Homo sapiens: one gene and its partners. The protein of the gene in region 2 interacts with the protein of the main gene of each other region in a pairwise test. Each region holds a gene or a part of one and is shown on either strand. Other genes may lie near its edges.

Evidence for each region.
Region 1: the proteins of OTX1 (region 2) and JPH3 interact in binary tests that used the Homo sapiens proteins (3 or more experiments, as listed by UniProt).
Region 3: the proteins of OTX1 (region 2) and NDUFV2 interact in binary tests that used the Homo sapiens proteins (3 or more experiments, as listed by UniProt).
Region 4: the proteins of OTX1 (region 2) and SPRY4 interact in binary tests that used the Homo sapiens proteins (3 or more experiments, as listed by UniProt).
Region 5: the proteins of OTX1 (region 2) and TRIM42 interact in binary tests that used the Homo sapiens proteins (3 or more experiments, as listed by UniProt).
Region 6: the proteins of OTX1 (region 2) and FBLN5 interact in binary tests that used the Homo sapiens proteins (3 or more experiments, as listed by UniProt).
Region 7: the proteins of OTX1 (region 2) and PCSK5 interact in binary tests that used the Homo sapiens proteins (3 or more experiments, as listed by UniProt).

What each region holds. Positions count from the first base shown.
Region 1 is NC_000016.10:87,688,951-87,693,448, forward strand, and holds part of JPH3 (junctophilin-3), read left to right. Parts: intron 1-695; coding exon 696-1,576; intron 1,577-4,498. UniProt on the Homo sapiens protein: Junctophilins contribute to the formation of junctional membrane complexes (JMCs) which link the plasma membrane with the endoplasmic or sarcoplasmic reticulum in excitable cells.
Region 2 is NC_000002.12:63,053,303-63,056,551, forward strand, and holds part of OTX1 (homeobox protein OTX1), read left to right. Parts: intron 1-629; exon of another isoform or gene 630-744; coding exon 745-896; intron 897-2,198; coding exon 2,199-3,014; 3' UTR 3,015-3,249. UniProt on the Homo sapiens protein: Probably plays a role in the development of the brain and the sense organs. Can bind to the BCD target sequence (BTS): 5'-TCTAATCCC-3'.
Region 3 is NC_000018.10:9,119,299-9,123,796, reverse strand, and holds part of NDUFV2 (NADH dehydrogenase [ubiquinone] flavoprotein 2, mitochondrial precursor), read right to left. Parts: intron 4,472-4,498; coding exon 4,409-4,471; intron 4,324-4,408; coding exon 4,207-4,323; intron 2,533-4,206; exon of another isoform or gene 2,341-2,532; intron 1,285-2,340; coding exon 1,116-1,284; intron 1-1,115.
Region 4 is NC_000005.10:142,309,514-142,313,057, reverse strand, and holds the end of SPRY4 (protein sprouty homolog 4), read left to right. Parts: 3' UTR 1-2,628; downstream 2,629-3,544. UniProt on the Homo sapiens protein: Suppresses the insulin receptor and EGFR-transduced MAPK signaling pathway, but does not inhibit MAPK activation by a constitutively active mutant Ras. Probably impairs the formation of GTP-Ras.
Region 5 is NC_000003.12:140,690,949-140,695,446, forward strand, and holds part of TRIM42 (tripartite motif-containing protein 42), read left to right. Parts: intron 1-19; coding exon 20-244; intron 245-4,498.
Region 6 is NC_000014.9:91,941,195-91,944,694, reverse strand, and holds part of FBLN5 (fibulin-5 isoform 1 precursor), read left to right. Parts: intron 1-1,733; coding exon 1,734-1,788; intron 1,789-3,500. UniProt on the Homo sapiens protein: Essential for elastic fiber formation, is involved in the assembly of continuous elastin (ELN) polymer and promotes the interaction of microfibrils and ELN. Stabilizes and organizes elastic fibers in the skin, lung and vasculature.
Region 7 is NC_000009.12:76,358,741-76,363,238, forward strand, and holds the end of PCSK5 (proprotein convertase subtilisin/kexin type 5 isoform 3 precursor), read left to right. Parts: coding exon 1-182; 3' UTR 183-4,235; downstream 4,236-4,498. UniProt on the Homo sapiens protein: Serine endoprotease that processes various proproteins by cleavage at paired basic amino acids, recognizing the RXXX[KR]R consensus motif. Likely functions in the constitutive and regulated secretory pathways.

The DNA of each region.
Region 1 (4,498 bases), on a different chromosome or scaffold from region 2:
GCCCCTCCCTATCCAGGCCTCCGGGTGGGGGCTGATGGGGACTGAGCCACCGGCAGACGACAGGGACTCTGCTGGCTGCAGAGCTGGCCCCTGGGTCCTGTGGTGACCTCCCCTTCCGGGGAGCCCCGCCCTAGGACTTGAAGCCCCAGCAGCCTCGAAAGGTGGGGAGGGAAGTCGGCTCCTGGGCTCTCACGCTGGCCCCGGCACTGGCTGTTTCTCAGCAAGACTGTCCCAGCACCCTGAGACACAGTCCCAGGCGGGTAGGGGTGTTGGCGGCCTTGCTGTGACAGCTCGGCCTCCCCAGACAGGTGGTCAGCTAGGGTGAGGGGCTTCCTCTTACCCTCAGGACAGGCGAGTCAGGGTTGGTGGGACCTGAGTCCACACCCCAGCGTCCTCACGCACTTTCCGAGCCTTGGGTCTCCCTTGTAGCCTGGGAGCTGCTGTCCGCCCTTCCTGTGGTGCCTGGGCCTAGCCAGTCTCCCTCCAAGTGTCTGTGGGGTGGGGACCACGGGGGTCCCACAGAGGGCTTTGGGAGCCACGGTCCCCACTCCCCTCCCTTGCCTGCAGCCTTTCGGTGAGTGGGAAGCGCCTCTGCTGCCCTGAGGTTCCCTCTGGCGCCCTGGCCCGGGGACCGCGGCCTCGCTGTGGAATGTGCTGGGTAACGCCGTCTGGCGTCGTCTTGTGTCCCCATACAGGGCTGGAGTACCAGAGGCCGAAGCGTCAGACCTCCTGTGACGACATCGAGGTGCTGTCCACCGGGACACCCCTGCAGCAGGAGAGCCCCGAGCTGTACCGCAAGGGCACCACTCCCTCCGACCTGACCCCCGACGACAGCCCCCTGCAGAGCTTCCCCACCAGCCCCGCGGCCACCCCGCCGCCCGCGCCCGCCGCCAGGAACAAGGTCGCCCACTTCTCGAGGCAGGTGTCGGTGGACGAGGAGCGGGGCGGGGACATCCAGATGCTCCTGGAGGGCCGGGCCGGGGACTGCGCCCGCAGCAGCTGGGGCGAGGAGCAGGCCGGGGGCTCCAGGGGTGTCCGCAGCGGTGCCCTGCGCGGCGGCCTGCTCGTGGATGACTTCCGCACCCGAGGTTCGGGCCGCAAGCAGCCCGGGAACCCCAAGCCGCGGGAGCGGCGGACGGAGTCACCCCCCGTGTTCACGTGGACTTCCCACCACCGGGCCAGCAACCACAGCCCCGGAGGCTCCAGGCTGCTGGAGCTGCAGGAGGAGAAGCTGAGCAACTACCGGATGGAGATGAAACCCTTGCTGAGGATGGAGACGCATCCCCAGAAAAGACGCTACAGCAAGGGCGGCGCCTGCCGGGGCTTGGGGGACGACCACCGCCCCGAGGACCGGGGCTTCGGGGTGCAGAGACTGCGGTCCAAGGCCCAGAACAAGGAGAACTTCAGGCCGGCCTCCTCCGCGGAGCCCGCCGTGCAGAAACTGGCGAGCCTGCGGCTGGGCGGGGCCGAGCCCCGGTTGCTGCGTTGGGACTTGACCTTCTCCCCGCCCCAGAAATCCTTGCCTGTCGCTCTAGAGTCCGACGAGGAGAATGGGGATGAGCTCAAGTCCAGTACGGTGAGTGGGCGGCCACCAGGCTGGTCCCAGTGGAGGCAACATCCACCTCTCTGCTGACCTGGTGTTTCCTGAGGGTTTCCAGCAAGGTCACTGCTCCCCTGTTCCTCTCCAGGGGTGGAGTAGGGTGGGGGTACAGCCGGGAGTGGTGGCCCTCAGGTCGCTGGGACCCTCCCCTAGGAAGCCAGGTGGGGCAGGTGTCATACCTCTTTCCGTGAGAGGCTGCCCCCAGGTTGTCCAGAAAGCACACGAAACTCCTGGTTTCCAGGCAGCATGGGATCCCTGCGCTCCCCGCAACGTGCTCAACCCCAGCTGCTCCAAGAGTCTGTGCCCCTGGTCAGTAGCCTTGGGCCGTGAGATGACCGCTTGAGTGTCCTGTGTCCTGGATAGGAACCCAGAGGCGAAACAGCTGGGGGCAAGGCTGGCCCTGGGGCTGGGAGTCAGGTCTGGGGTTGGGGGGAGCTGCCAGTCCAGGTTTCTCTCACCCATGGGGGGTGTTGGGGTTGGAGCCGGCTCCCACGTGAGGCCCGCTGTGTGCAACTCACCGTCAGCCTCACCCAGCACCCCCCCCCCAAATTCGTTCCTCCAGGGCAGGCAGCTTGGAGGGAAGAACAGCGTCCCCCTGGGCTAGACTCGGCGCGAGGCTGGGGGTCCCAGGCTAGACTCGGTGTGCGAGGCTGGGGGTCCTGGTGCCTCACACAGGGCTGGCCTCCCCTTGAAGGGACCTTCACTCTGCAAATCCCACCCTGCTCCCTTGACCAGTGCTGCAGGAATGAAGGGCTTTGGGAATGAAGGGCTGTGGGACGGTGGCTACATAGGATCTGCGCACGGCCAGGCCCTCACCCCAGCAGGGCTCTGCTCGCTCGTGGCTGCCAGGCAGTGCGTGGTGCTGAACAGAAGTGCTGCAAGCCAGTCTGCCCCTCGGGTGTGAGGACGCAGGGGGGTGTCCGCAGGGGGCGCTCAGGGCGTGTGGGCCGGGCAGGGGGGACCATTGGTAGGTTTATTGTCGACGCTGCGGCAGGGGTCGGTGTCTGTCCCTGCCCCTGACCTAGGGGAGCTGTGGTTTTCTCCTCCTGCCAGCCCCACCCCCAGAGGGGTCACCGCGTGACACCCCTTTGAAGGGGCACGTCCTGCCGGGCGGCAATGCCTGTTTCTGCCTCTCCTTGGAACCACTGCGGACGTCTGTCTGTCCTGTTGGGTTCCTAAGATGCCTCCCCGTTCCCCAAAGCCCACAGAGAACAGCCCCTATGCTCCTGCTGGGACCAAAATACCAGCTCACACTTACAACTTGATTTTCCCCATCGCAGCCGGAGATGTGTGCGTGGCTGTGCGCGCGCGGTTATTTTAGGAACAGCCAAGCAGTGGGCAGGGTGGGAGGTGTAGGGACGGGTTCTATTTTTAGCCTGCTTAATGCACTGACACTTTTGGGTGCTTTTAAATGAACCTCCCTGGGGGTCAATGCACAAGCTGGGGACAAGTGCCAAGCTGGCCTCTGGGATGAGTTAGCGACACGCAGGGTGCTACATGCTGCCCTGGTCCTGCCCGGTCTCCAGCTGGGGCTAATCTGGAGGTCCCGTCAGCTGCAGCATCATGTCCCACCCACCCTGGAGGATGCCAGCTGAGCTCCTTGGAAGTGGCCACCCTGGGGTACCTGGTGCTGGTGCAAACAAGGTTTCCCTCCCTGTCTCCCTCCCCGTCTCCCTCCCCACAGCTTTGGAGCTGTGTTTTCTGCCAGGTCTGTGAGGGGAGATGGTGTGTAGAGGCGCGGTCAATCCTAAGCACTGTTCCAGGCCCTGTTGGTGGGAAGCAGGAGGGGCCCGTGCCAGCCGGCATCCATGTCAGGGGACAGGTGTCAGGGCAGTCGGGTGCCAGGCTGGGCTGAGTGCCTTCAGTGCCACCCCCTCACAGGGGTACAGCTCTCTGCAGTGTCTCCCCTGGGCCACCAGCAGGGTCTGGGGTGCTGTCTTCTGGCCATCCCCCTCCACCATTCCCAACATGCTGCAGAGCTCACACGCCAGAGGCCCTGGGTCCCACTGGCCACAGATGGGCCTGGGATTCTAGCCCACATAGGGTCCCACTGGCCACAGATGGGCCTGGGATTCTGGCCCGTGTAGGGCCCTGGCAATTCAGGGTAAAGTCCCTTAGGATGGAAGCACAGGTTCTCCCTACCGCTCTACTGGTGAAGGAACTCTGGCCCTGGCTGTTTCCCTCTTGGTGAAATGATGGATATGACCTGATGGTGGGGTCCAGGGTTGGAGGATGGCTGGGGAGACAGAAGCTTCCCTCCTGCGGGCAGCCACGCCCTCGCCCACAGCGTCCGTACCTGCTTCCCGGCCCAGAGCACGGGCTGGACTGTGGCAGAAGAGGTGCCACTGACCACCCCACTCTGTCCTGCTACCCCACTACAGGCTGACTAGCATCCGGCCCTTCCTCCTCGCTGGGGTGGGGGAACTTTGCACCAGGGGTGGCATCAGTGGGCAGGGCTGGGCCCTTGGCTGTTCTCTGCCCCCTGCAGGCTGGCCCGGCCCAACCAAGTTGTCATGGGGCCCAAGACTCACAATACACCTGCCTGAGGCCACGATGCCACGGAAAGCTGGGCTCAGGGCAGCTTGCTTTCTCTCTGGCTGAGTGGAGGCCCTTGCTGTGTCCACAACTCCACTTCCATCTGCGCCTCAGGTCCCTGATAGGCTGGGAGGTTGCGGAGGGTGTGGGCCTGGTGCTGCTGTGGCTGCAGGTGCCCCCTAGGCAGCACCTCACCCTCTGAGGACCCTCCTCTCTGAGCTGCATCCCAAGGACAGTTTACAAAGCCCTTTGCTGACTGGGGTTCAGCTTATCTGTTGAGCAAACTTTTTCTTTAAAAAGTTTCTTGGCCAGGCACGGTGGCTCACACCTATAATCCCAGCACTTTGAGAGGCCGAGGCAGGT
Region 2 (3,249 bases):
CGCCTTCCCGGCCGGATCACCGGCAACCTTTCTCCGGTTGTGGTCCCACCGCCAGCGCAGAGCTCATTTACTTGCGGATTCGCTACCCAGGGGCGGCTAGTATTTTTCCTTTTTCCCCAACATGGAATGTGTAATCTGGACACTCGTTAGGCCCTGACAGAAAGAGCCAAACTTTCCTTATGCGAAGCGGCAGGCTGCACTGAAGGAGTATTCTTCCTCCCTAATTAAATTGTCCTCTAAATCGATGTCCTGCACCCATTTTTGCGCTGCTGTAGAGGACGACTTGAGCCAAAGCCGGGGTTTCTTTTTTAGCTCCCGCTCCTTTACCTCATTTATTTTCTCCGAAAGTGTTTTTCAGGTCGTGTTTCTGCCTACCTCTTCCCCACTCCCTGTCCCCCATCCAGAGTGTGTGTGTGCGTGTGTGTGCGTGTGCGTGTGTGTGTGCAGGGGAGAGGGGATGTAGAAGAAGGGAGATTGTAGACTTCTCTTAACTTTTTTAACCTCTGAGAGGCATAGAGAGGGGCAGCCCTCGAATCTTGGAGACACTGGCTTCTAGTCGCACATCTGCACTTTCTCCCACCTGTGGCCTCTCAGGCTCGGCCGCCCGAGGGAGTTTCTTTTATTCCCAGTTCGGCTTTCTTTTGCGAAGGCCGAGATCTGGGCCTGCCAGGGGCCTGCCCGAGTCCTCTATCGCGGGTCCACGTGGCCACCAATGACCCGCGGCGCCCCCGCGTGTCCCCGCAGCCACTCCGCGGAAGCAGCGGCGGGAGCGCACCACCTTCACGCGTTCACAGCTGGACGTGCTCGAGGCGCTCTTCGCCAAGACTCGCTACCCTGACATCTTCATGCGGGAGGAGGTGGCGCTCAAGATCAACCTGCCGGAGTCTAGAGTCCAGGTGCGCACTCCCCGGGCTCCAGGGTCTGGGTAGGGGAGCTGAGGCTGCTCGGGGAAGGTCTAGGAAGGCTCTTGAGTAGTTCTTGAGGAGACCATCCTGTGGGGGTGGGCTTACAGACTGGGCAGCCGCTCTCGGACTCCCCCTAGCGCTGGGCCCCAGCCAGGAAAGGGGGCAAAAGTTAAAGGAAATGGCTTAGAGCCCTGGATTCCGCCTTTAGCCCTAGGGCGCCTTCGGTGTCGGTATCGAAAGTACTTTTTAGAATTGCCGGAGGACTAGGGAAGCTCCCGAATGTAAAGCGCCCTGCGGGCCTGACACTTGCCCCTGCTTCTTCGCCTGCCCCAGGACTTGGCAGTTTCCCTTAGAGGCCTGAATTCTGCCTCTGCCCTTGTCTTCCACCCCGGGAATCCTAGAAATGGAAGAGCGGAGATTGGCTGGAGCCTGGTGCTCTGCCTGGGTCTCATTAGACGCTTCCTCTGCTTACAGAGGATGCTAAGTGCAAAATCCTGCTGCCGGCTTTCTTATTTCTGTTTTTGAGATGAAAGGGTTCCGATGATAACGTTCGGATTCTAACTCAGAACTCTCCTCAAGAGTCTCGCCTCCTTTACTCGAAAGCTTGAGAAGGGGGACCAGGAATGCAGTGCCATGTGCTGGGGCTCTCCTAGAAGAGTAACCATTCCATTTGGTTCCCCACCTGGAGCCAAAGGGCCAACGAAATCCCACCCAGGCTTCCTTCCCGAGTCCCTCAAGTACTACCTCTGTTTAGCCTCTGGCCTTGCTCCTACCCCCACCCAAATACTCGCCCTGCCCAGTTCTGGCCTCCAGGAGCTGCTCAGTGAAACGGCTCAGGCCCTAGACTTGGTGACTGTTCCACACTCTTCGGCTCTGTACCTCTCCACTGTTGCCTGAGCTCTGTTAGTAGAAAACTGGGCCTCCAAACACACACGGGGCCTCCAAACATACACGGAAGCAGCCAACAGCAGCAATTTAGAGATGGCAGAACTTCTGACTGGGCAGACTGAAATATTCCGCCCTAGGGCAGAGTTGCGGTAGGGGTGGGGAGGTGCGCATCCCTGCTCTGGAGCCAGCTGAGGAGGGGCTTTGAGCAGAAGGATGGGGGAGGGTGGAGGAGCTGGGAACCGAGGTAGGGGGCAGGGTCTGGCCAGGCCAGAGACAGGAAGGGGCGGAGGCCTCGGTGAGAAAGGATTGCGATATTCTGGACCGGGAGTTGGGTCCGCGGGGCGGTGGAGCAACAAGCTCCCCTAGCTCCCTTTGACCCACTCTCCCCCATCCGGCCCACTGCAGGTCTGGTTCAAGAACCGCCGCGCCAAATGCCGCCAGCAGCAGCAGAGCGGGAGCGGAACCAAGAGCCGCCCAGCCAAGAAGAAGTCCTCTCCAGTGCGGGAGAGCTCGGGCTCCGAAAGCAGTGGCCAATTCACGCCGCCAGCTGTGTCCAGCTCTGCCTCGTCCTCTAGCTCGGCGTCCAGCTCTTCCGCCAACCCAGCGGCTGCAGCGGCTGCGGGACTAGGTGGGAACCCGGTGGCGGCCGCGTCGTCGCTGAGTACACCAGCTGCCTCATCTATCTGGAGCCCGGCCTCCATCTCGCCAGGCTCAGCGCCCGCGTCCGTGTCGGTGCCGGAGCCATTGGCCGCGCCTAGCAACACCTCGTGTATGCAGCGCTCCGTAGCTGCAGGCGCCGCCACCGCAGCAGCCTCTTATCCCATGTCCTACGGCCAGGGCGGCAGCTACGGCCAAGGCTACCCTACGCCCTCCTCTTCCTACTTTGGCGGCGTGGACTGCAGCTCATACCTAGCGCCCATGCACTCACATCACCACCCGCACCAGCTCAGCCCCATGGCACCCTCCTCCATGGCGGGCCACCATCATCACCACCCACATGCGCACCACCCGTTGAGCCAGTCCTCAGGCCACCACCACCACCATCACCACCACCACCACCAAGGCTACGGTGGCTCTGGGCTTGCCTTCAACTCTGCCGACTGCTTGGATTACAAGGAGCCTGGCGCCGCTGCTGCTTCCTCCGCCTGGAAACTCAACTTCAACTCCCCCGACTGTCTGGACTATAAGGACCAAGCCTCATGGCGGTTCCAGGTCTTGTGAGCCCAGGAATGAAAGAGGAGAAGAAACGCAACTACCTGCGCCCTCCGTGGTCCCGATCCTGTTGCTGCTGCTGCACCGCCCGCCTTTGCCTCGTCTTCTCCAAAACTGAATTTTCACCCCCCAAAAAGATGTCCATTGCCTGCACTGCCGCCCCCATTTTTGTGCCACTTGCTTGGGGGGATGTGCAAACCCACCCTGCCCCTTGGATGGGGGGACCGGTGCTTCGGCTTGGCCT
Region 3 (4,498 bases), on a different chromosome or scaffold from region 2:
GAGGCAGGCCAAGCATGGTGGCTCACACCTGTGATCCCAGCACTTGGGAGGCCAAGGTAGGAGGATTGCTTGAGGCCAGGATTTCACAACCACCAGCCTGGGCAACATAGCAAGACCCCTCTCTACAAAAACAAACAAAAATCAATTAGCTGGGCTTGGCAGCATGCACCCATAGCTACAGCTACTTGGAAGGGTGAGGCAGAAGATCACTTGAGCCCAGGAATTGGAGGCTGCAGTGAGCCATGATCCAGCCACTGCATTCCAGCCTGGTGACAAAGTGAGACCTCAACTCAAAAAAACAGAAAAAAAAAATGAGGCAGACATATATATTGTGCTGTAGAAATACAGCCAAAATAAAGTCTAAAAAGCAAGCATACATGTAGTACATTTATATATTTAATAATTAAAATGATATAAAATCTACAACTAATATATCCAATTGTTATCAGGATTTATACCTTGATGGTGTTGGGGGTGGGGGGGTTTGAGCCAACTTCAGCTGTTTTATATATTTCAATACCACCCAGCTATTTTTACAACATGCACATATTATATTCAATAACAAAATATTACTTCATTTGACATATATAGTTAGAAGTGTAGCAATGGCAGTTTTGTAGGGGAAAATGCCCATTTACTTTTAAAATGCTAATTTACTTTTCAAATGCTACTGTAATAACATCTGTTTCAAATTTCCCTTCCCAAAGCATTCTTACTATGCTTGTATCTTATTTGTTCCATGACTTCTTTAGAAGAATATAAAGACAATAATGGGTCACTTTTTAATATACCACATGCTGTCATAGAATAGTAAGTGAAACAATTTTCTAAGTGAAACAATCTTCTAAACAACGAATATTTTATAACTTCTACAAGCATTTCAAACATACTGATTAAAAAAGAAAAAATTAAAAACTCAGCTTTAACACTAAGAACTGAGGAAGAATACCAAATAGGAAGAAATAAAGATGTGGAAACACAGTAACACAAAATATTACTAGGTAAGTACAGATCCAATAAGATGGCAGAAGTTGGAAATTTTAGATAGAAATGTACCAAATCTAGAGAGACAATTCTACTTTTTATCAGTGTTACAAATATCATGTATTCCCTACCAAGCTTTTTCTGAATGGCCTCCAGTATGCTGTCAGAGTTTCGAAGCATGCAGGGTGTAGTAGTGCAGACCTGAATGTGATACTTTCCAACTGGCTTTCGATTATACATTGTATAAAAAGTTGCTACTTCATATACTCTCATTGGAGGTACTTGTAAAACTTCTGCAACCTAAAATATTAGGACATTTAAAAATAAGATAATTACAGTGTTAGTAATGGAGCTTTAATTATGTTGTACAAAGTATAATTTCAATATTGTCTCAATTTGGTAAAAACAGAAAAGTTCTTCAAGAGCAGAAAACATACTTGTCTTGGATAACTGGGAGATATAAACTCTTCAATTTTTGCAGACAATGTACTTACACTTAAACCATACAGAGCCCGAAAGTTAATGGAGTTAACAGCACTTCCTCCTTCTACCCTACTTCTCACCTCTGTAAAAGGATATTCTTTTTCTCTAAATCTTTAAGTATTTCACTATTAAGAATTTCTACTTTGATCATGTCAACTCACATTTTATAATCTGTCTAAATGGCAAAAAATTGATGGCCAAACCCCAATAAAAGAAGCAATTAGATTTTTTAAACTCTCACCAATTTTTTCCAAACAGCCTACATACAAATGGTACAGCAACAGAAAAAAAGGTTGAAAATCAAAGCTCACTATTGGCCCATATTTTAAATATGTAAACTCAAAATTTTATATCTCTACATATATGTATACACATATTATCATACACAATCACACACTCCTCTCCCAGAATCCAGCACACTACTTCTATTTCATATCACAATACTCTTTTGAAAGTTGAATCATATAGTCTAGTACTTTCTAACCCTTCACGTCAAGACATTAATAGAAAACAATTGTTTTGACATTCTGGTGTTCAGGACTAAGGGGATCACTAACTCAGCATCTTTTCTTAGGGCAAGTCTGTTAGGGAAAACGAGGATTTCTAGCTGTTTGCCAGGGCTGGTCCTTGTCTATCGTGATTTATAATTCTGTCTACAACTTTCTAGGTGACCTATTATCATTAAGACTTACTATCTGGCATTCTTAAAAATTATAGATATATCCATATTCTAATATAAAAGAAGAGCGGGCATTTCAGACAAGTATGTTAACTTTCTCATATTAGGAATTCTAAAGGAAATATATTCTCAAAAGACATCTAATCATGGCTCACTTGTGACAGATAAAGTAATTGTGCTATTTCATTCGGCAGTTCTGAATCAAGGACGTATCCCTGAATCTGGGGAGCTCTCTATCAAAATATACATGCTGGAACCCTACCAAAGGAATAATAAATCTGGAATGAGGCTCTGACTGTCTAATTAGGAAAAGACTCCTTCCTGGAATTCTGCACATCTCCCTACACCTTAGTGACGGTTAAATAAATAATTATTAAGCTTCTGGATATTTTTTGTTGTAAGGTTAGGTGTTTCATGGGTTGGGGGGAGGGGCAGTAACATTAAAATAAAAGTCCCAAATGTAAAGTGCAAAGAATCTTGAGTCTATTCCCTATACCCTACACTTCCTGCCTTTCCCCCACACAAATCCAACCCTAAATATAATAGGACAATATATAAATACATATTTTTTAAGAGATAGGGTCTCACCATCTTGCCCAGGCTGGTCTTAAGCTCAAGCAATCCTCCCACATCAACATCCTGAGTACCTGGGTCTACAGGCATGCACCACCATGCCTGTCTTATTTTTTAAATGTTTTCACTTTCAGTTTCTTATTTATTTTTATTTTGCTCTGCTAACGTGCCACTCAGCAAGATTTCCAACAGGCTTACCATTACTAAAAATATGATTTTTTCAAAATAATAACATTATAATTAGAAACATATACCTAAATCATTATAAAGTTGGCTATTTTAATTTAAAAAAATGTTAAGTAACTTCCCAAGAAATACATAATTTATCGAAGAAATAACCACCTATGTTTACTCAGGATAGTAACTCACTAAACTTGCTTTATAATATTTTTCATAGGGAAAAACCAGTGTTATAGTACTATACAATGCAAATAAAATAAAATATCAATAAACTAAATCTAAAATTTGCATTTAGGATTCTATTAGATAAATTGAGGACATTCCTATTCTCTCAGAAAGATGATTGTCTAGCCTAAGAGTTATAACCAAATTAAGTTTAGAAAGTGGTAAGAATGAAGTACAACAAAATCTCTGTTATAGTCAGTCAAGTAGAAAATGCACTGATTTAGAAATGAATTCAGTCCTAGCACTACCGCTCAGAAATCATAACTTAATAATTAGAAGAGGTCTACCTGGTTCAAAACTTTCATTGCCAATGAGGAAGTTCAGAGAAAAATCAGGTGTCTTAGTTCTAAGTCAAAAATATTTTCCATTATATAACACAGCTTAATGGTTATGTGATTCTCATCAGAATCAAATAGTATGTGGTTTGTGTATGGCACTTTATAAATGATATGCTGTAATACATCACCACACAAATGTAGTTATTTGTATTAACAGGATACGAATAAACTTGAAATTTGTATTACTGCTCAAAACTATTAGGAAAAATGAATATTATATGAATAGAGTAACTTTGAATAAAATGGGTCATCCATAGCATTTCTATAGGTCGTTGATTCCAAAGTAGCATAATCAAATTGTATAAATATCACCTATTATACAGATTTTTCTTACAGCCTACAGCCAAAGATGTAAAATATTAAAAATTTTCATACTAGTGAGCAGATCTTCTTTTCTGTAATTCTAGTGTTTAAATATTACATTAATTTTCAGAATATCTTGACACTAAGTTATACACATTTGGAATCTTTTATCTTTGACCATTTCCTTCAAAAGGAAAAAAAAAAACACATACCCTCTTTCACCATAATGCCTTCCTTATTTCCTGCAAGGTTAGAAATCACCTCTATGCATTAAGGGAATGAACAAAAACACAAAGACAATTCAAGGAAACATACAAATGGCTAAAGGGCTCCAAAATCCTAGATTCTGACACTGGAGATGATCAGAGTAATTTCTATAAAAGGAAATTATCATACACAATCTCTTCTCTTTTAGAACTAAGGCAAAAATGAATCCAGTACCTTGTTCATAGCAGAGATGGGCAACCACCCATTCTGCCTTTGGGCTAAATCCAGGACTGGAAGAACAGCTGCTGCTTTATGGCCTTCTGGATAGTTTTTTACAATTGCCTCTATCCTCTGTATAAAAGAAAGAACATCATTTTATACATCTAGAAAATATTACCTATTTGGTAAATTAATTATAATGTTAATTTAGCCATACCTTATAGTTTTCTGGTGTGAAATCAAATGGAGTATCAGGGTTATTCTCAGGAGTATCTCTGTGCTACACAACAAAAACAGTTTTTCAGAC
Region 4 (3,544 bases), on a different chromosome or scaffold from region 2:
TCTCTTCTGATTCTGCTGCTCACTGTCATAGCCTTTTGTGTATAGTGATGTGTCTGTATCTTTAATGTAAATAGAGAGATGATGAAAAAAGAGTCTATTTTAGTGTTAGGAAGCCCCAGCAGGGGAGTCGGAAGAGCTTGGAAGAGCTGGGGAGAGGGTAGGGGAAAGGTTTTTCCAGGGGCCACTGGGTTTGAGCCCTGCTTCTGTGCACAGCCACACCACCCTCTCCCGACAGCCCTCAAAGACGTAGCAACTCTTTCTCTCAAGGTGCTAAAGGACTCAGAAGGTGCAGCACGTCCAGTGGGTAGGTACTTGTTGCATGCAAAAGCTGTAGTGTATCTGGTCCTTCCTCCCCAGCTTTTGTGTGGGGTTCTTGCTTTGTGTGGTATTTTGTTTTCCCCTCTAATGAGAGGGCATGGCCTGAGTCAGAAGAGCTACCCCAGGTGAAACTGGAAGTGCATGAGGCAGAGCGTCCGTAGCATTTCCAGTTTGTTCTGTATAGGAACAGAGGTGCCTCCGGGAAGGAGGCAGCGAGGTAGGTAGCTATGATAGGCACCTAATGCTTCTCAAGGACTTATTTTTTCCTTCTTGAAGACTAGTAGTAACATCTTATGATTTAGAGTAAGTTGATTGTAACCATAGGTATTTATTGATTGGAGGAAGGGAGGGTCATATTATTTTCGGCTTTATTTATGTAACATTTGCTAGCTTGTAAAAGGCGAATGTGAAATATTGCATCTGCATTTTCCAAGGCTGATTCGTGTAGCTACCCTTGCCACAGTTGTGACGGATGTATGGATGTTCTTGAACATTTCAGAAGGAGTGGTAGAAAAAAACACACATTCAGCCAACCACTTATATGAATTGAATGTATCAGAAGTGTACTGAAGGGACTGGAGATGGTTTTCCTCAGATGAGGGGGCCCCAAAATTGATAGTGCACATCTGCACGCTTTCTGCGAGGCCTCAGAACTTCCCAGGGCCCCTCCCTCAAATTGTCTCCATGGGAAACTTGACCCAGTGGCAAGTTGCACTTTGGTGATCTTGGTGGTCTACACACCCGTTCTGTGGAGAGTCGATTTACATAAGCTGTGTATACACACACACACACACACACACACACCCCTACCCCACACTGACTGTCTACCGACAAAGACCCTATTTCCTGGCAAACGGCCTCCTGAACCCTGACTTTTTGTGTACATACTTGTAAACACGGATTTTTCTGGGTTTTGGTTTGCTTTTTCCTTTTTTCCCCCTGCCCCTGTTCTAGCTTGTTCTTCTTGGTTTGCTTTCAACCTGCTTGATGGATGTCTGCAGAGTGCTCTCTAAGAGTCCACCTCAGTGCCTCGTGTGCTCAGTGGTCATGGGAAAGGAGCGAAGGAACCATCCTTGGTTCTCCCAGCTTGGTTGTGTAGCAATCCCTCAGCATTGTTTTTCTCAGCTTCTTGGCAAAAATTAAAACAACAACAACAACAACAACAACAACAACAAACAGAAGGATAAACTGGCTTGCCTGTGGACCCTCCCCGGCTCTGGGGCCAGTCGAGAGCCACTGAGGGACCCAGCACTCAGAGACACAACACACATGTGTAGCTGCTTCTGGCTGAGTGTGTTTCCTGTCACCAATGGCCTGTTTGGCTGGACGATGCCTCGGCTTGACCTTTTTTGAAAAGTGCTGGTTAGTTCCCGCCCCTGGTAAACCTGGGGTAGGTGGGGGTTCTGTCTTAACTCGAGGGGCACCTGGGATCCAGGACGCTTCTAGGGGGCTCTGGCTGCCCGTGTTAATGAAGGACAGCGCTTCCGCGAGCACCCTGGGAACTGGGTCTTGGGTAGCAAAGCCCTCCCAGAGAAAAGATTGGGCACAACTAAGGCTTTCCTGAGCAGGAAGGGGGTGAAGACCAATCCCTTCCTTTGGTCCTTTGGTACGCACCCCCTCAGAGCTGAGATGGAAGACATGGCTAGTTCTTTTCAGCCTTGTGGAGCCTGTCAGTCGCCATCATACCTCGAGTGAGGCCCAGCTAGATAATGACTTGTCCAAGATGGCACACGTGGAAAGTTGATCTGCACCAGAACCCGGATGACTGTCACCTTGAAGCATCCTGTTCTCCTTCTGTGCTGTCCCAGGAAGTGTCTGGCGGGCGTGGGCAGCACAGCTCTACACTGTACGATTCACTAGGGCATCCTGCGAGCCTCACTAGCCTTCTGGTTCATGCCTTTGACAAGCATTTTTGTGCCCCCTCTGCTTACTGTGACAGTCGATGATGAATCTTGCGTTGCCATTTTCTGCTGTGGGTAACTGCGTGCAGTGTCTTGCCTTGCTTTCTCTTCTTACTGTCCCACAGCTTGGTTTCATGTTACAAACAGAAAAGCTCGAGGCTCCCACCCCGCCACATCCCAACTTCATTTCCCCCTCACTGTAGCCCATTTCCACCCCACCACAAAGTTGCCACAGGTTTTCTTTGTATAGAATATTTATTTTGAAGCTCTATTTTAATAGTATTTATTTTAGAAAGTCTACTATTGTAAGAGTTCTTCTGTTTGTGAAGAAAAAAACAAGTTAAAAACTGAATGTACTGATTTAGAAAATATATATAAATATATATTGTTAAATATACACGGGACTGCCGTTTCTGGTGTGTTTGTGTGTTTACTTCCCTGACCTCTTCAGCCAGCAAGGCCTCAAGTTTGAGAATAAGCAGCCACTGAAAGGGGAAGAGAAGATAGGGCTTCCTGGGCTGGGCAATCCCTTCTCCCAGCTCTAGGACGACCGTAGAACCATCGGAGGAAAGCTGCTCTTCATTATGAAGCGGAATACTGCAAGGAGCTGCTAGAGCCTCCTTCCTGGGAAAGCTGTCCCCTAAACTGGAGTGTGCTGCAGATGGACAGCAAAGCTCCAAAACTGGGAAGAGGTAGAGGGGGAAAAGTGTCATCTGACCTGTCCATTCCTCTCCCTTTATGTCCCGATTGCCCCCAAAGCAGGTTTTCACACACATGAACACACAACATACATGCTTCAAGGAACTAAATAGAAAAGCCCTTGGTCATTTCCGTATTTTCACAGGATTGGTGCATATTGCACAAAACTAGTCCTTTTAGCCTCGAAAGCCTTCCATCCATTTCATGACCTTCTAATGTACCTTCCTTCTGTTTTTTGTTTTGTTTTGTTTGAGACAGCATCCCAGGCTGGAGTGCAGTGGAGCGATCTCACTCACTGCAACCTCCACCTCCTGTGTTCAAGCGATTCTCCTGTTTCGGCCTACTGAGTAGCTGGGATTATAGGCACGCACCACCATGCCCGGCTAATTTTCTGTATTTTTAATAGAGACAGGGTTTCACCATGTTGGCCAGGCTGGTGTCAAACTCCTGAGTTCAAGTGATCTGCCCGCCTCTGCCTCCCAAAATGCTGGGATTACAGGTGTGAGCCACCGCGCCTGGCCAGCATCTTGCTTCTGATTCCCTCGTACCCCCACCCCTGACCAGGGCACTCAAACTTTAGACCCAGCCACTTCTCAATTTACATAGCTATGGGAACTTTTTTATTT
Region 5 (4,498 bases), on a different chromosome or scaffold from region 2:
ATGTTCATTTCTTCCATAGGTTTACTGGACATGTCCAGCAGAAGACGTGGACTCTTTTGAGATGGAATTCTATGAAGTCATTACTTCTCCTCCTAACAACGTACAAATGGAGCTCTGTGGACAAATTCGGGACATAATGCAGCAAAATCTGGAGCTGCACAACCTGACCCCCAACACAGAATACGTGTTTAAAGTTAGAGCCATCAATGATAATGGTCCTGGGCAATGGAGTGATATCTGCAAGGTATTGTGTGCGTTATTTCTCAGACAGATTTTTTTTTCTATGGTAGGTTCTGGATGAGGCCCTGTTAAGATGATCGTGAGATTATAGAACTCACTATGGGACTCTTCCTCTAAGCACAGAACATTTGTTAACTTGAGGCCAAAGAGAGGGCTGCTGGCCTCAACCAGACTTTGCAGATGTCGCCTGAGAATTGTTCTATTTGATTCAAAAACATTTGTTCTAGGCATTGTGTACAGATGTAGAGATTCAGAGGAAAATAAACATAATCCCTGCCTTCAAGGTGCTCAGGGTCTAGTAAACAAATAATTGTTGTGTGAGAAGGACATGAAATAATTGTGGTACGAGAAAGATAAAAATGAGGTGCTATTCCCAGGCAAGGATGGGGTGCCAGATTTAACTAATGAAAATACAGGATGCCCAGTTAAATTTGAATTTCTGGCACACAATAATTTTTATAAAATATGTCCAGTGCAATATTTAGAACCTATTTATACTAAAAACAATTGTTCATCTGAAAGTCGAGAAACTGCCACTAAGCAGGTCAGTGTGCCTTCCAAAAAAGAAAGGACAAAGTTATTCCTATCTTCTTTGTGATCCAAGACTTACTCTTCTTTATATCTCCAGGGAATACACATTCATGAGTATAATTTTATTGATATTAAAAGGAGAAAGAGAATAAAAATACCAAGACTGCCTAGAGCTGCTATCTTACCATATAACCATAAGGGTGTTCTTTGGAATCAGGGTCGATTACATCTTAATCAGGAATTCTTTAGAAGAAGAAGAAAAAAAAAAAGTCCATTCATTTCAGCTTTTGAAAAGAGAAATTTATGACAAAGATACAGGAAGTCTCATGAGACCACTTCTAGGATATGCATCTGATCTGATACCCAAGGGAACTGGAGAGTCATCAGTTTCTCTCCCTCTCCCTCTTTCTCTTCTCTTCCTCTCTCCCTGCTTCCTTCTCTCTCTCACTCTCTCATTCTCTTTGCTTCTCTCTGGATCTGCACCATTTTTGGCTAGCCCTTAGTTTCTGCTCCCTTAAATTCAGCTTGTATATGGTTTTGAATTGTCATGGCCCAACCCCTGTGTGACCTTAAAGCTCCAATGCCCAACAGCATCTGACCAACCATACTCTGTTTCCTTAGTAAAATGTTCGAGGAAAAGAATCCGAGTGGTTGCTACCTCTAGTAATAAAGGCAAAGCAGGAGTAAGGGTGGTCAGTATACCAATAGCAAATCTCCTAGGGTGGGACCACTCATCCTGGTTGCCAGCCCCAGGGGGACATGCTTTACCTCATAGAGTCCAGCACCCATGGACACACACACACATACACATACACACACACACACACACACACACACACACACAGAGAGAGATAGAGAGAGAGAGAGAGAGAGGTCAAACCTGGCACAGGAAGGATGTGAGATGGGGAAGCCTGCTAGCCACTCCTCCTGCCAGCCTCCAGCCAATTACACTGCTGCTCAGTTGCCCCAAAGCCCTTCTCATTCTTGATACCCTTCTCTTCAGAGCATGGAATGCCCGTGGCTGCCCCACATCCGCATGTCTCTTGACTATGGATTTTTCCTTCCATCTAATCTCATCTGCCTTCTCAGTTTTTAGGAATTCCTCAAAACTGTCTTGCCCATGAAGGGCACTCAGTACTGTTGCTAAAATATATGTAATCTATTATTTTCAGATGCCAGGGAAAGAACGGGTGGAGATACCAAAGTATGTCATCAGTCTACCATCTCAGTCCCTCTTGGCTTTTCTTAGGTAGAGGCTTTTGTTGCCCTTCTGAAATTATGGACTCCTTGAGAATAAAATTCACATCTAATTCATGGTTCTTTCTCCCACAGTGCTTACCACAGCACTTTGCATATAGCTGGTTCTTAATAGTTATTGAATGAGTATATGAGTGAAAATGTGACCAAATAAATGAACAAATAAGGAATGTCTAAATTAAAGAGTGAAGAAATAAATTGATAAAATTAATAATTACAAAGTACCGTAAGATGCCTGAAAGCTGTTAAGTGTTTTATACAGTCAAAAAATAGCATTTCCCTTGAAATTGTGTTTATGTGATTAATTTGCCCTCCCTGTAAGAGAAGGAAATGCATTCCAGTCCCTTTCTTTTTAACACAATATCTAAATGAGCAGAGCCCTAATTAATGAGGTTTTCTGAAAGCTTCATTTTTATCTGACTTGAGGAGCTGCAATATAGATTTTTCCTTCAGAAGTAATTCTTCCTCCCTTCTTTGTGGTTATATTAGCATTCCAGAGGAAACACTGGTTTCCTTAACATTTGTCATGATTTGCATAAGTAAAGCCTTCAATACCAAATGAAAATAAGATGTGTGTTTGAATGACATTTATAAAGTTTCATAAAAGTAATGACTTCATTTCTTACCTATAAAATCAAAATTTTTTCCTTGGCATCAGTTCTATGCAGGTATTCCTGAAAGGTTTCACTTAAAATGTTGCAATGAGGCAGCAGGATCATTTCTTATCCAAAATGCAATATTTCTATCACACGTATTTTTGTTTTAAAAAGTGAAATAACACCTTTTATATTTTATTTGCATAGTCTAGGACTTGATTTTTAAGAGATTTATTTGGTGTGTAATACATGCAGCAAGAAAATTAACTTTAATGATTTTGAAAGGTCCCATTTGAAGGTCATTTTTATGTCAGATGGGGTATATTCATTATCACTAATCATCCCAACCACTGGGAAAGGAGGAAGTGATTGCTTCCATTTTACAGATAAGAAAAATGAGGCTGTAAGAAGCAAAGTGTCTTCCATTTTACAGATAAGAAAAATGAGGCCTCATAGAAGGATGAGTTGAGTGGACACCTTGGTCTGTATCCAAGCCCACAGTCCTTTGTTCCCCTGCACCATGCTCAAATGGAACTAAGTCTGGAACAGGGTAGGCTCAGCCCTGGGGACATAGTACTTTACTCTGGGAGAATGATGTCAAAGCCAACAGCAGGGAGAGCTGAACTTTTATTTTTTGAAAGTCAAGATTACGCATTGAAAAGAGCATTGTATTTGGTCTTGTGTACCTGGATTCAAGTCCCAACTCCACTAGGCTCAGGTCCATGAGGATAGGTGTTGGTCTTACACACCCTTCTGTGCCCATGGTCCCTAGCTGAAAGCTTCTAACATCAAAGAGCCTAATTAATATTTTTGAAGGGTAGAGAAATGTGTTTTTAGGTAAGTCATGTACGTGTTGACCTCAGTTTCTTCCCCTGCTCTTCCTCTGGTCCTCAATATATCTGTTGACCATCATACCCATTTCTGAAAACAGTCTCCTTACTTTGACTCACTGTCTCCCTCTGACTTTATATCTCAGCTGACTTCCATGAAAGCTTCCCATGACAAATCTAACTGCCTATCTGTGTATTAGTTTCCTATTGTTGTTGTAACAAATTAGTAGTTTAAATAATACAAATTATTTATTTCCTTACAATTCTGAAGAAGTCCAAATGGGTCTCACTGGGTAAAATCTGTGTCAGCCATATTGCATTCCTTCTGAAGGGCCTGAGGGAGAATACATTTCCTTGCTTTTTCCAGCTTCTAGAAGCCACCCGCATTCCTTGCCTCATGCCCCTTCCTGAATCTTCAAAGCCAGCAACATTGGGCTGAGTTTTCACACTAGCATCTCTCTGGTTCTGTTCCACCTCCATCTTCCACCTTGAAGGTCCCTTGTGACTGCTTTGAGCCCACCTGATAATTCAGGCTAGTCTCCCTACCTGAAGACCAGCTGGGCCAGGTGCAGTGGCTCACACCTGTAATCCCACCACTTTGGGAGGCTGAGGGAGGAGAATCTCTTGAAGCCAGGAGTTTGAGACCAGACTGGGCAACATGGCAAAATCCTGTCTCTACTAAAAATTAAAAAAAAGTCAGCTGGGTGTGGTGGTGTGCGCTTGTCATCCCAGCTACTTGGGAGGCTGAGGCACGAGACTCGCTTAAGTCTGGGAGGCAGAGGTTGCAGTGGGCCAAGATCAAGCCACTGCACTCCAGCCTGGGTGACAGAGTGAGACTCCATGTCAAAAAAATAAAAAAAGACCAGCTGACTAGCAACCTTAATTCCCCTTTGCTATGTGTGTAACCTAACATATTCAAAGGTTCTGGGATTGGGACATGGACATCTCTGGGGTCCATTATTCTGTCTACCACAATCTGTAAAGTGGATGTCCTAGGTTACATCAGACTTGGAGGTAAAAATTCAAGCCCAACAATAGTTACAA
Region 6 (3,500 bases), on a different chromosome or scaffold from region 2:
AGTGGCTTTTTTCACTTAACATAATACAGTCAGGGTTCATTCATATTGTAGCATGTGTCAGAATTTCCTTCCTTTTTAAGACTGAATACTATTCCCTTGTGTGTACAGACTGCATTTTGTTTATCCATGTATCCATCGAAGGACTGCGTCCACCTTTAGGCTATTGTGAATAATGCTGCTATGAACACAGGTTTACAAATACCTGTTTCAAGTCCTTGCTTTTAATTTTTTGAGGGTATATACCTAGAAGTAGAATGGCTGGATCACATGGAAATTCTATGTTTAGTGTTTTGGGAGTCATCATACTGTTTTCCATAGAGACTGCACCATATTTACACCAACAGTGCACAGGAGTTTCACTTTCTCCACATCCTCCCTAACGCTTGCTCTTTTCCATTTTTTAATAGCCTCATGAGTGTGAAGTAGTAGAGATTTTGTATTTTTATTTTGTTTTTATTTTTTGAGACAGAGTCTCGCTTTGTCTCAGAGCGTGTACCACCATGCCTGGCAAATTTTTGTATTTTTAGTAGAGAGACAAGGTTTCACCATGTTGGCCAGGCTGGTCTCGAACTCCTGACCTCAGGTGACCTTCCTGCCTCGGCCTCCCAAAGTGCTGGGATTACAGGCATGAGCCACCACACCCGGCTGCTTTTGTATTTTTAAAGCAATCTTGCTGGCCACAATCTTACTGGATTAAAGCCTGTGCGTGGCGAAGGGCAGAGTTGCAGACTCCCAGAGCATCACTGTCTTGTGCATGGCAGAACTGAGCCCAGGGTGCGTGACTCCTCCTCCTGTTTTCCCGCGGGTTTCATTTTCCCTGGGCTGTGCAGGTTCCCCGAGTCCTTTCCTCCATCAGGACCTGCTGGCAGCAGTTCCCGCAGGCCACACTCTTCAGGGGACAGGGCCACCCCAACCCATCCACTGATGGGGGATTTTCACACATGTGGACTCAATGCTCTGGTTCAGTGACTTCCTGTGACACCTTTCTTTGGTGCCACTCAAAGTGCCTCACATTCTCACTTTCTTTTCCTTTCACTGTTTGAGGGCATGATGATGGCTTATTCACTCTGTAATCATGTCAGCATAAAGATGTTCAAAAGTCAAGCACATCTCGCATAAAGAATAAAGACCAAGGAACTGGTTAATACCATAGTGGGAGGTTTTAGCTTTTTTGGGGGGTGGGGGGAGGACAAGGTCTCGCTCTGTCACCCAGGCTGGAGTGCAGTGGTATGATCTCAGCTCACTGCAGCCTCAAACCCCCTGGGCTCAGGTGATCCCACCTCAGCCTCCTGAGTAGCTGGGACTTTAGGCGCGTGCTATCATGCCCAGTTAATTTTTTTTTTAATTTTGTAGAAATGGGGTTTCACCATGTTGCCCAGGCTTGTCTCAAACTCCTGGGTTCAAGCAATCCTCTTGCCTCAGCCTCTCAAAGTGCTGGGATTACAAGCGTAAGCCACCGCACCTGACCTTAGCTTTTTTTTTTGAAGCAGCCAAACCCTTTATTAAAAAGTGTGATCTAACACATGATCCCAATGCAGGAGGCAAGTAGAAGAGGTGTGGTTCTGCTTGGGTGGTCGCGGTGTCTGGAACCACCATGACCTCCCTGGAGCACACCCCACCCCATACAAGCCCAAGGTGATATCACCGTTACACGTCACGGGCCGCATGCGACCCACACTCCCCTAGACCTGAATCTGTCTTGGGCATTTATATTTGACTTTTCACCTCCACAGGATACTCACTGTTACCATTCTGGCTCTCTGTCTTCCAAGCCCTGGGAATGCACAGGTAAGATTTTTATTTTTAAAAAATATCTACAAGCGTATTAAAATCCGGGGTGAGGGAGTCCAGCCTTGCGCTACGGAACCCTAGGTTTGTGGGGGTGGGAGTGGCTTTACAGTTGACCTCATCTGAGCTCTTCATTCTCAGAGGTTAACAGTGGAAGCTCAGAGAAAGTGAGACTTGGCCCAGGTGACATGACTTGTAAGTGACAAGGCTGGGGCTGGTACTCAGTTTCCTGACTCCCAGTCCAAGACTCTTTTCTATTTTATTATAAGTTCTAGGGTACATGTGCAGGATGTGCAGGTTTGTTACATAGGTAAATGTGGGCCATGGTGGTTTGCTGCACCTATCAATTCATCACTAGGTATTAAGCCCAGCATCCATTTTTAATCAGATCACATGGCCTCATTTGTGCCCCTCACAGCAGGCCTCAACCTACCTTCAGTGTTGAAAAGTAAAATATGCTGTAGTGTTTCTGGGCAATGGCACCTGAGGACCCCCACGGGTCTGCATGTGTTGCCACAGACACACCCCTCCTGGAGGAGGTGGGAGAGGAAGTGGGTGTTACCCAAACATCCCAGCATGTAGTGTTGCATAATTCAGCTCCAAACCTAGGAGGGCCCATCCCTGGGCTGAAACCCCTCAGAGGAGTAAGAAGGGGGTGGGTGAGGCCAGGCTCAGGGCCTTAGGGGTTCTGGAAGAAGCTTGCAGCATCCTGGACTTTATTTTAAGCAACAGGAGAGATGGACCCCTGTGTGTCAGCCCTGAAATGTGGGCAGATCCCTCCTGAAAACTCCGAGTGGCCTCTCTGTGTCTCTGGCTCAGGAAAGAAGTGAGAGAAGCCCTATCTCTGAGCAGGCTGAGGGCTGCAGGCAGGTAGGGGAGCATTTTCTCTCTTCATATTAAGAATTTTGAAGCATATTCAGGCCACTGGCAATGGGAAGGATTTTGGGAGGAGTAACAAAGAATTTTAGACCTTGCGGTTTTCTAAGGCAGCCTCATGGTGTACACATGAAGACAGGTAGGCCCCAAGGGCAGAGGTTCAGGGTCGTGTTTACTGCACTTTAGGCACGTTATATAGATTAACATACATCGTCCTTACCACCATTTTGAACTACGTACATACCCCCCCATTTTACAGATGGGGAAACTGAGGCATAGAAAAGTTACGCAGAGAGTAGGGGCTAGAGTGAGAATTTGAAGCCATGCCCTGGTCCAGCAGTCTTGAACCTATGCCAGTCCTTGACAACCAGGGCTGGAACCTGGATCTCCTGGCCTCCCAGCTTCCCGGCACAGCTTCCTGGCTCGTCTGTTCCACTTCCTTTGCCCCAACTCCCTGGGACCCCTGAACCCTCTCCCGGGAGTGCAGGCCATATACATCATCTCTGCAAATCAACCAACAGCTCAGCGAAGCCCAACCTCCGAAGCTGTAGAAAAGGCCAGGGATGGGAGCTCCTAGAAAATGTCAGGCCCTGGGGTCTTCCTGAAGAGTCCACCCAACACATTTTTTTTTTAAGTACATACATTTGTAGCTCAAGTTGTATGTAAAAGCTACAACCCTCTGGAATTGTTGAGATCTATCTCTTTCTGGAAGCATCTTTATGTCGTCATCTTGCTGAGGTTGAAATGGAGAAATTTACTCAATTCAACTTTTCTTAGAAAACTGACCACATCTCTGTGTAGCTTTTATTTATGTACAGACATCAAAATCAGGTAGA
Region 7 (4,498 bases), on a different chromosome or scaffold from region 2:
GCTTTGAAGAGGATCAGGTGATTGAGTACAGGGATCGGGACTATGATGAGGATGATGATGATGACATCGTCTACATGGGCCAGGATGGCACAGTCTACCGGAAATTTAAATATGGGCTGCTGGATGACGATGACATAGATGAGCTGGAATATGATGACGAGAGTTACTCCTACTACCAGTAAACAGGCACTCCCCCACCAACACCACCATTCCACTCTCAGGCATGCCTGTGAGCATCACTGTTTTTGGTTTTATCCCCACACCAGGCTGATGTGTGAGTTTTTCTATTTGTCTTCTTTAACCATGAGTCCAACCAGAATATGTAAGAATGATGAAATACTTTGTTCTTCTTTTGAGTGGCTAAACTCAATTAACAGTTCCTGTTCAACCGTAATTGAAGAGCAAGGATAAAATTCAGAGGCATTTTCCTCAAAATAATGTGTTAAGACACAAAAATGAAGGAAGTGAAAACAAATGAGATTTGTACAAACTCTTCTATGTGATTTTAAAAAAAGGACAGCAGATCTATAGAAATTCTGTTTCCGAGCTGCATTGTGGAGGTGTCTGCTGCCTCCTGGTATTCTAATTTTTCTTTATCTAATTTTGGGGATAATGGAGGTACAAAGGAGTTGTTGGTTTGGTGGTGTTTTTCTTCCCTTTAGCTGTCTTTAGGCAGAAATTTGTTTTGTAAGGGCCAAGAAAAGAGGGCTCTTATCAATTGACTCCAGGCCACCCCTGGTGAGCAGAAGAGACCACCTGGGCTGGGCTGCTCAGGACCTACTTGAGATAAGGGAAGAAAAGAGAAGGTGCATCATAGCTGAGGAGCCATGAGGTCACCCCAGGCCCTAGTTCCTCCGCAGGAATCCAGAGTCACAACAATTCTAAAGGCAGAGCAAGCCCAGCGAGAAAGAAATAACTGAATTTCCAGGAACTGCACTCTCATGATTTTCTGGGTACTTTTCGCCTGGGAGACATCAGCTAAGACATCGAATAATAAAAGAAAAATGGCAGTGTTAACCTAACATAAAATGGAATAAAATGACAAACACTTCATCCGCTCTAAAAAATTCAGAGCTTTCCTTCATCAACAACCCATCACAAAACCGTGGACTCTCAATAGAAAGAGTTGGAATAGAGTCTAACATGGAAAAAAAAAAATCCCAATATGCTGCTCACAAGCTGTACTCTAGCTGCTGACCAGCCTTCCAGCACTGCTCATCACTATGATTTTTGTTTCTAGACTTCCTAGGCTTCCTTTTTTCCATTCTTCTGTCAAGTGTATTCTTGGATTCATGCAACTGAGGACAGTTTTTGTCCAGATTGTAACACAGAGAAGGGCTCTTGCTATGCAAAATGATGTTGGCAGGGTCTTACAGATTTCCTTGTCAAAATAGACCTTACAGGCAGTACTAGAAATGGAGCACCAGAAAGCAAAAATGACATTTTCAGAGAATGATGATAATTATAATCTATTGCACACCTACTACCAGATAACAAGCTAAGTAATTCCCCCCCAAAAATGCCCCACTTATCCATTTTGGTACTTACCATACTCCCATGAGGTTGGTATTGCTATTATTCTGTTCTTGTAGGAAACCTGAGGCTTACAAGAGGTTAGGTAACTAGTCCAAGGTCATGCAAAGCTCAACAAAATTCAAGAAAAAAGAATGATCACCCTAAAGCGTGTGTTCTTATAACTATGCTACTGAAATAAGGTGGGAAAATAAGCATCCTAAATATAATTAAAGTCATGCCTATTGTTTTAGTCTATAATATCAATGTTATCTTTACTAAATTCATGGATTTTCTTTTTTTAACATAATGTATCACTGACACAGAAAATCTTTATGAAGAAGTCTTCAGTTTACTAAAGGCTTGTGCTTCTTTAGAGGAAAGCTCTTAAAACAGGGTTGACAAACAGTCTCTGGAAAGAGCCAGCTAGTAAGTACATTAGGCTTTCTTGGCCAGAAAGTCTCTGTCATAACCACTCAGCTCTGCTATTATAGCATGAATGCAGCTGGTACATAACGGATGGGTGAGCTGTGCTTCAATAAAACCTTATTTATGGACACTGACATTTGAAATTCAGGTAATTTTCACATATTATAAAATTTTATTCTTCTTTTGATTTTTTTCAACCTTTTAAAATTTAAAAATGCAAAAGCTATTCTCAGTTCACAGCATTACAAGAACAGGTGGTGGGTCAGATTTGGCCAACAGGCTGTACTTTGCTGACTTTATCTTTAAAACAGTTTTCAGAGATCATACATGTACATGTATGATATGCCTCCAAAAATTTTGATCATTTAAAATTATCTCCTTGGCCAGGCGTGGTGGCTCATACCTCTAATCCTAGCACTTTGGGAGACTGAGGCAGGCAGATCACCTGAAGTCAGGAGTTTGATACCAGCTTAGCCAACATGGTGAAACCCCATTTCTACTAAAAATACAATAAAAATCTGGGCATGTTGGTGCACACCTGTAATCCCAGCTACTCAGGAGGCTGAGGCAGGCAAATCACTTGAGCCCGGGAGGCAGAGGTTGCAGTGAGCGGAGATGGCACCATTGCACTCCAGCCTGGGTGACAGAGCAAGACTCCATCTCAAAAAATAAGTAACTAACTAACTAACTAAATAAATAAATAAATAAAATTATCTCCTTGCCAGGACTGCTGGCTCATGCCTGTAATCCCAGCACTCTGGGAGGCTAAGGCAGGAGGATTGCTGACCCACCACCTGTTCTTGAGCCCAGGAGTTCGACATCAGCCTTGGACAACATAGTGAGACTCCCGTGTCTACAAAAAATTTAAAAATTAGCCAGGCATGGTGGCAAGTGTCTGTAGTCTCAGCTACTCAGGAGGCTAAGGTGGAAGGATCACTTGAACCCGGGAGGTCGAGGCTGCAGTGAGCTGTGATCTTGCTATTGCACTTCAGCCTGAATGACAGAGCTAAGACCCTGACTCAAAATAAATAAATAACATTATCTCTTCAAAATGTATCTGAAGCCCTGATAGTTCTACTTTCAATTCTTAGAAACATATAAAAATATATGCATGATAGCCATCATATCAATGGAAGACTTTCTCACCTCTGTGGTTGCAGTTAGCTTACAAAAACGAGCAATTTTGCTTATACTGTGTTGTTCATCTTCCTTGTTAATTCTAAAGCTCTGATAGACTGAGTTTGACATTTCTTTCTGTAAACTGGAAATTGTTTTCTATGAAAAAAAAACTCTATGATACACAGTTAAAGATTGGTTGAGGTTGAGATGAACTTCAATACTAAGAAAAATTGTGGTGTTCCTCTGTGTGGCCTGCAATGAAAAGAAGGCTCATGCTTGTGTATTGAGGTTTGACATCTTTCCTTCTTTGTTTTTAGTCATGCAACGTCATTCTTAGATGGCTTTTGAATACTATGCTAATGACTATCTAAATAGATAAATATGTGATTGGAAAACAAAGTCACCTTTTAGTTTTCTACTTGGAAATATTAAGAGAATCCTTGTAGACTGGAAACACACCAAAAGGCTGGGTAAAGCATGGGAGGTTCCAGTTAATAGAAAGTAATTTTAAAATTGGAAATAAAATTAAATCAAGACCAGATAATGCTATGGAGACTTACTTATTAAATAACTTTCTGAGCATTTTTATGTGCTTAGCATTACATTTTCCAAGTAAGAGATACACAACAAGAGTGCTATTTTTTCTTCTTTTTATCTTCCTACACTCAAAGACCAAGCTAGCTTTATCAATTCTGAATTTTCTCTCCTAAAAATCAGCTCAATCTGTCTTTCTGCCTCATCAGCACTGCCTCAATCTAAGGGAGGAAACCACCCCTCATATTGTCTTATGCCCAATTTCTGCCTCCAAAGAAAGAAGAAGTAAAAACTAAAAGGCAAAAATGAAATCCACAGGCAGACAGCCCGGCGCTACGCCCTGGGCCTGGCAGTTAAAGATCGACCTCTGACCTAACCGGTTATGTTATCTATAGATTCCAGACATTGTATGGAAGAGCATTGTAAAAATCCCTGTCCTGTGCTGTTTCGTTCTGATTACTGGTGCATGCAGTCCCCAGTCACGTACCCCCTGCTTGCTCAATCGATCATGACCCTCTCACGTGGACCCCCTTAGAGTTGTGAGCCCTTAAAAGGGACAGGAATTGCTCACTCGGGGAGCTCGGCTCTTGAGACAGGAGTCTTGCCGATGCTCCTGGCCGAATAAACTGCTCCTTCTTTAACTCGGTGTCTGAGGAGTTTTGTCTGCGGCTCATCCTGCTATAAATCAGGCCCTCGGTGTTTCTCATCTAGACCACTCATACTTCTTCCTGAAGTATTGTGCAGCTTTAATCTCCTTTTCTTTCTCTCCTGGCGTATTTTCTACCCTGCTATCAAAGGTCATTTCTAAGGTTCCTCAGATAATCCCATTCCGGGGTCCCCGTCACCTACAGTGTTTATGACATTCAAAACTTTGTTACATATGGCCACTGGCTCTGTCTCTGGA